Homo sapiens: one gene and its partner. The protein of the gene in region 1 interacts with the protein of each later gene in a pairwise test. Each region holds a gene or a part of one and is shown on either strand. Other genes may lie near its edges.

Evidence for each region.
Region 2: the proteins of ZNF587B (region 1) and SMAD9 interact in a two-hybrid assay, tested with the Homo sapiens proteins (one large-scale study listed by BioGRID).

Annotation. Positions count from the first base shown.
Region 1 is NC_000019.10:57,828,838-57,833,167, reverse strand, and holds the start of ZNF587B (zinc finger protein 587B), read right to left. Parts: upstream 2,870-4,330; 5' UTR 2,640-2,869; coding exon 2,604-2,639; intron 1-2,603. UniProt on the Homo sapiens protein: May be involved in transcriptional regulation.
Region 2 is NC_000013.11:36,844,017-36,847,247, forward strand, and holds the end of SMAD9 (mothers against decapentaplegic homolog 9), read right to left. Parts: 3' UTR 815-3,231; downstream 1-814. UniProt on the Homo sapiens protein: Transcriptional modulator activated by BMP (bone morphogenetic proteins) type 1 receptor kinase. SMAD9 is a receptor-regulated SMAD (R-SMAD).

The DNA of each region.
Region 1 (4,330 bases):
ATCTGTATACCAACCTGAGGCCTGGGGAACTCACCGTCCTAAGGAGAAGGACATAAGCCTGTCTGGCTTTGCCACCTGCTGACTGTACAGGGCTAGGGCCTTGAGGGAACACAGGCGATAGCCATGTAGTGGTCACAGGAGCCTTGGGTGAAACCCAGTGCTGTGCTGGCTTCAGCTCTCACCCAGCACAGTCCCAGTGGTGGTAGCTAAAGGGGTGCTTCTGTCCCAACCCCCAGTTTCAGGCACTTCAGCACTGACAGAGACATGCTGGGACAAAGTGAGGGAAGACCCAACAAGAGTCTCTACCTGTTATGTTAATCAAGGGAAATCTTTCAGATCTTATTCAAGACCACAAAGGTGGTACAGCTCTCTGAGTCTGCAAGAGTCACAGCATTACTGAGTGTGGGGTTCCCGCTAAAGTAGATTCAGCTTAGATCACAACACCCGGGTCCTTTCAAATACCTGGAAACTCTTCCTAAGAAGGACAGGTACAAATGAGCCCAGACTGTGAAGACCACAATAAACACCTAACTGTTTAATGCCCAGACACTGACGAATATCTACAAGCATCAACACCATCCAGGAAAACGTGACCTCACCAAACAAACTAAATAAAGCACCAAAGACGAATCCTGGAGAAACAGAGATACGTGACCTTTCAGACAGATAATTCAAGATAGCTATTTTGAGGAAATTCAAAGAAATTCAAGACAAACACGGAGAAAAAATTCAGAATTCTATCAGATAAATTCAGCAAAGAAATTAAAATAATTAAATAGAATTGGCCGGGCACAGTGGCTCACGCCTGTAATCCCAACACTTTGGGAGGCCAAGGCGGGCGGATCACAATGTCAAGAGATTGAGACCATTCTGGCCAACATGGCGGAACCCCGTCTCTACTACAAATGCAAAAATAAGCCGGGCATAGTAGTGCATGCCTGTAGTCCCAGCTACTCGGGAGGCTGAGGCAGGAGAATGGCATGAACCCGGGAGGTGGAGCTTGCAGTGAGCCGAGATCGTGCCACTGCGCTCCAGTCTGGGCGATAGAGCGAGACTCTGTCTCAAAAAAAAACAAAAAGAAAAAGACAATTTGTATTTCACAGGGCACTCTGCTATAAAGGGTAAGATGTTTTGTTTAGTAAACAAATAAAAAAATAAAGACAGCCAGGCACGGTGGCTCACGTCTGTAATCCCAGCACTTTCGGAGGCCGAGGCGAGCGTATTGCCTGAGCTCGGGAGTTCGAAACCAGGCTAGGCAACATGGCGAAACCCCGTCTCTACTAAAAATACAAAAAATTAGCCGGGCATGGTGGCGGGTGTCTGTAATCCCAGCTACTTGGGAGGCTGAAGCAGGAGAATCGCTTGAACCCGGCAGGCGGAGGTTGCAGTGAGCCGAGATCACGCCACTGTACTCCAGGCTGGGTGACAGACTGAGACTCTGTCTCAAAAAAAAAAAAAATAAATAAATAAAATAAGCTGGGCTCGGTGGCTCGCGCCTGTAACCCCAGCACTTTGGGAGGCCGAGGCAGGTGAATCACCTGAGATCAGGTGTTCGAGACCAGCCTGACCTACATGGAGAAACTCCATCTCTACTAAACATACAAAAAATTAGCCAGGTGCAGTGGCGCATGCCTGTAATGACACCTACTCGGGAGGCTGAGGCAGGAGAATCGCTTGAACCCAGGAGGCGGAGATTGCGGTGAGCCGAGATCACGCCATTGCATCCAGCCTGGGCAACAAGAGTGAAACTCCGTCTCAAAAAAATAAAAAATAAAGACTGCATCTAACGAGGTAAGGTCACCAACGAGCACACTGTTCCACTATCAGTTCTCACTAGAGGATTCTGTGATGTAATGCCCAACCTTGTTTTTACTAACCCTGTTTTTAGATTCTCCCTTTCCTTTAATCACCTAGACTTGTTTCCACCTGAATTGACTCTCCCTTACATAAGAGAGCCAGACAGACTCCATCTTGGCTCTTTCACTGGCAGCCCCTTCCTCAAGGACTTAACTTGTGCAAGCTGACTCCCAGCACATCCAAGAATGCAATTAACTGATAAGATACTGTGGCGAGCTATATCCGCAGTTCCCAGGAATTCGTCTGATTGATAACGCCCAAAGCCCCCCATCTATCACCTTCTAATAGTCTTAAAGCCCCTGCACCTGGAACTGTTTACTTTCCTGTAACCATTTATCCTTTTAACTTTTCTTGCCTACTTTACTTCTGTAAAATTGTTTTAACTAGACCCCCCCTCCCCTTTCTAAACCAAAGTATAAAAGAAAATCTAGCCCCTTCTTTGGGGCCGCGAGAACTTTGAGCGTTACCCATCTCTTGGCCGCCGGCTAAATAAACGGATTTTTTTTTAAATAAACGGACTCTTAATTCGTCTCAAAGTGTGGCGTTTTCTCTAACTCGCTCAGGTACAGTGACTATAAAAGATTAGGCCTTCAGCAGCTCAAAAGGGCTGTCCTGACAGTCACTCCTAATAAAAACTCAGCATCTGCTGCCTATGGCTCTGCCACCTTAAAGACTCTTCCTTGCAAGACTACAGGCTTTTGGGTGATGATGAGGTGACCTGAGGGCATGGAAGGCACCACAATTACCTGAGCAGAGAGCCTCAGCGTGGCCACCACCGCCATCGAACCACGTGGTTTAAAGCAGGGTTGGGAGGAGAGGGTGACCAGCCAGGAGATATGGGCATGACGGTCCCTATCCTGGCCCAGGGGTGGGTCACGCTTGGCGCCGTCACAGAGCTCCAGAGTCGCCTCTGTGCAGCAGAGGACAACTGTTCTCCGCCTTCTGGGTTCAGTCACCGCAGTGCCGACCTAGCGCTCAGGAGCCTCTCCGACAAATAAACCCAACACCAATCAAAATGGCCGCCACCAGAGGGCGCCGGAAGTCCGGACCCATTGTCACGTGCACACAGGAAATGCCTTTATTCTGAGCCCCCATGGCTCTTCCACTCTGTCATTCCATGCGGAGTTTTCTGGGTAATGTAGTTCCCTAGGTAACAAGGAGGGTAAAGGGCACAATTCCCAGAGGCGGTTCTGCAGGAAAAGCCCAGCTCCACCTCAGGAGTATCCTTAAGATATGCGCCCTGACTGGTATGGTGGCTAGCTCCTGTAATTCCACCAGTTTGGGAGGCCAAGTCAGAAGGATCATTTGAGGCCAAGAGTTAGAGATTAGCCTGAGCAACAAAGCAAAATCCTGTTTGAAGGGGGCCTGCCCCTCCATACCTATGGGTATCTCTCATCAGGTGGAGACGAGAGACTGAGAAAAGAAATTAGACACAGAGAAAAAGTATAGAGAAAGAATAGTGGGCCCAGGGGACTGGCACATTCAGCATGTGAGGACCTTCACCGGCGCCGGTCTCTGAGTTCCCTCAGTATTTATTGATCATTATTTTTACTCTCTTGGTGAGGGGAGTGTGGCAGGGCAACAGGGTGATGGTGGGGAGAAGGTCAGCAGGGAAACACGTGAGCAAAGGAATCTGTATCATGAATAAGTTCAATGAAAGGTACTGTGCGTGGATGTGCACATAGGCCAGATTTATGTTTCACTTTAAACAAACATCTCAGTGTAGCAAAGAGCAACAGAGCAGTATTGCTGCCAGCATATCTCGCTTCTAGCCACAGGGTAGTTTTCTCCTATTTCAGAATACAACGAATGGGAATGGTTGGCTTTACACCATGACATTCCATTCCCAGGAATGAGCAGGAGACAGAAGCCTTACTCTTATCTCAACTGCAAAGAGGCCTCCCTCTTTCACTCCTCCTCCTCAGCACAGACCCTTTAAGGGTGTCCGGCTGGGGGATGTAAGGTCTTTCCTTTCCCATGAGGCCATATCTCAGGCTGTCTCAGTGGGGGAAACCTTGGACAATACCCAGGCTTTCTCAGGCAGAGGTCCCTGCAGCTTTCCGCAGTGCATTGTGTCCCTGGTTAATAGAGAATGGAGAATGGCGATGACTTTTACCAAGCATACTGCCTGCAAACATATTGTTAACAAGGCACATGCTGCACAGCCCTAAATCCATTAAACCTTGATTCAATACAGTACGTTTCTGTGAGCACAGGGTTGGGGCTAAAGTTACAGATTAACAGCATCTCAAAGCAGAACAATTTTTCTTAATACAGATCAAAATGGAGTTTCTTATGGCTTCCTTTTCTACATAGACACAGTAACAATCTGATTTCTTTTCCCCATATCCTGTCTCTGCAAAAAATAAAAAATATTAGTGGGGTGAGGTCAGGCAGGCCAGTGGTCCCAGCTGCCCCAAGGTTGGGGTTAGGGTTAGGGAGCCTGAAGGAGGGAGAATCGCTTGAGCTCAGG
Region 2 (3,231 bases), on another chromosome or scaffold:
TTCTTCTCTAAGACGGGCTGATGTTTAAAGACAGTATTTTATGTCTGTACCATGATATGTTTAAAGAATGTGTATTCGTGTTTGAAATGCCAATACCAAATATTAGATGCAAGCACAGGGTCGGGAACCATGGGAGACAAACAAGACACAATCACTGCTCTCCAGAAACTTACAGTGTAAACTGGAGGCTTCACGGTCCCCACCAGGATCTAAACAGGCATATCTTTCATGTGTTTTTATTTTGGAGTTCCACAAAACACTTTTTTTGAATACAGAGCTCCATTTCGTTAAAAAAATTGACAACTCTGATCAAGTAAATAAGAAAGCTGCTTATAGGTAATAGAGTTTCCCCTTCCTTTTTAAGATTAGAAGGAAATTTAGATGAAAGGAATTGAGAATTTACATTTTTAGATGATGTGTTCATATTTCTTTGGATTTCATCTTAGTTTTCCCTCACCAGTTGCCTTTTAGCACCTTTCTAATAGGCAATCTGTAGCAATGTACAGATGTTTACAATAATGAAAGTGCTCATTCTTTCCTATATACTGCAATATCACGTATTTGCTACTATCCAGAAAAAGGTTCTACATATATCCTTTCTAAAGTTACTGTGAAGTATCTTCAAGAACTATACTTCATGACGGTTATTCTAAGGTGTTTAATTCAAAACCACTACCTAATTTCTCTATAGCATGTGGAATTTAACATCCCATTTTCAAAATAGAATGGTTTAAAATTAATTGACTTAAGGAGCTGCAGACCCACATACAGTGAATCTTCTATGAGGTTTACAGGAAAAATGAGCCAAAAGACATATAAGTACAGTATTCTTTATTATAAACAATCAGATAACAGTATAAGTGTGCATTTGATGGATAACCGAAGCCAAGTTATTATAATAGAAAGCATGACTTCACTCAAATAGACAGTTTCTTTGTTGTTGTTAATCTGTTTTACATTAATTTGAATTTAACATATGCTAGGATCACCTAAACTTGTCATACAGTTCTGCTATTAAAATCGTAACAGGGAAAGACAAAATGTGAAATGCATGTTATATTTTGCTTTATTTGTTGAATATATATGTGTGTGTGTGTGTATATATATATATATATATACACACTAAATATTTGGGACACAAAGTTAAGCAGGTGCTTACAGTCTATCAAGTGATATTTATGAAATGTTTTTGTTGCTGTTTTGTTGCTGTTATGGGAACATCCATATCCTTAGAAGACAATAAAAAAGAGGATTCTAAATGCTAGATGGTTGGCTAACTTCTCCTGATTTATACTGAGTGTAAAACAAAACAAAACAAAACATAAGGTATATGTGTTAAGTAGTGACATCTTTATAGTTCCAAAGCACTCGCAGCTATTAAAATATCATCTAGCTAAAACAAACTTTTCACAATTTTTTAACAGAAAAATAATAAACCAACAACAAAAACTGATCAATGTTCTGGGTCTTGTGAGCAGACCGAAATGTTACTACAGTGTTCTCTATTGTGTGATCCTTGTCCGTGGCAACCTTAAACGTGTGCTGCAGTGCTGATGTATTTATAGGCTTAGCATGTCTGCTTTATTAGTTATCCTGGAAAGAATGCTATTCAGTTTTTTTTTTAATGTCTACATCAAGGAATGAATGCTAAATGAGCCCATTTAGCAGCCTGAAATCAAATACTGCATTTATTTTTTGAAACTCTTGGTAGCAAAAGAAAAAGCTGATTAAAATATGATTGTGTTACAATGACTAAAGGGTTAACTTCTCATTAATTCTAAATTCTTCAAAATGTACAAGCATCATAATAAAGGCTTTTGATGAGACATGACTGGTGATGATCATATGTGCCAATTTAATAATTTATTTGTCACAGAAAATTCAGATTCACTGCAATATTGTGTTCTGGCTTCCCAAAGCTGCAGGGAAATACAAGTTTTTTGTTTCTTGATTTTTGTTTAGAGACAGGGTGTCACTTTGTCACCCAGGCTAGAATGAAGTTGTATGATCATAGTTCACTACAGCCCCAAACTCCTGGGCTCAGATGATCCTCCCGCCTTGGCCTCCCAAAGTGCTGGGACTATAGGAATGAGCCACTGCATCCAGATTTTTTTTTTGTTTTTAATGTCATTTATGAGCCACCAGTTTAGATTAATTCTGTAAAGGTGTAAGATTACCAGAGGAAGCCGGGCGCAGTGGCTCACGCCTGTAATCCCAGCACTTTGGGAGGCTGAGGCGGGCGGATCACAAGGTCAAGAGATAGAGACCATTCTGGCTACCATGGTGAAACCCCGTCTCTACTAAAAATATAAAAATTAGCTGGGCGTGGTAGCCTGTAGTCCCAACTACTTGGGAGGCTGAGGCAGGAGAATCACTCGAACCCGGGAGGCAGAGGTTGCAGTGAGCCAAGATCACGCCACTGCACTCTGGCCTGGTGACACAGCGAGACTCCATCTCAAAAAAAAAAAAAAAAAAAAAAAGATTACCAGAGGATAAGTTAGATAGCTGGTAGAGAGATCACGAAAGCTATGTTTGATCTCTGGAGCAAAAACTGTGTTGAAGTTCTCCCATGGAATGGTTCCCATACAAGATTCACCATATTAATGCCTTTTCTAAGAAAAGGGGACATGGAGAATTATTGGAAAACAGGGAAGAAAGGGGAGGAAAAAAAACAACTTTGAGACATGGAAGAAAAGTAGCATTTATACAAGGAATCCATTACCTGACTTTGCAGAAGAGTAAGGAAATAATTTCAAAACAGAGATAAGAAATCAATCACATTCTTTCAAGCAAAAGATGATAGATTACATTATTTTGTTTTGTTTTAAAAGTTCTGAAACATGAAGATGTCTGTACAAACAGATTCACTATTAGGTTCTCGGCTCCCTGAGGGCTGGGACTGTCTCTTATTTACATTTGATTCTACAGTACCTAACATTGTACCTGACACCCATAGGTAGGTGCACAATACATAGTTGATGAACCAATAAACTACAGATTTTTCTATACACTACATGGGCCATATATTACATTTTTCAATGTAAAATGTAATAATTCTTTTCTATGTGTATATATGAAAGTTTCTATTAGCTAACACTAGTAACTGTAAGAGGTGACAGTAGTAGCTCAATCATATATCTTTCTCACATGATCATTTCTACCTTGAATACAATTTAATTAGAAAAACTACCATGTGCACTAATGCTAGAAAGAGTTGAGATAAAATGTATA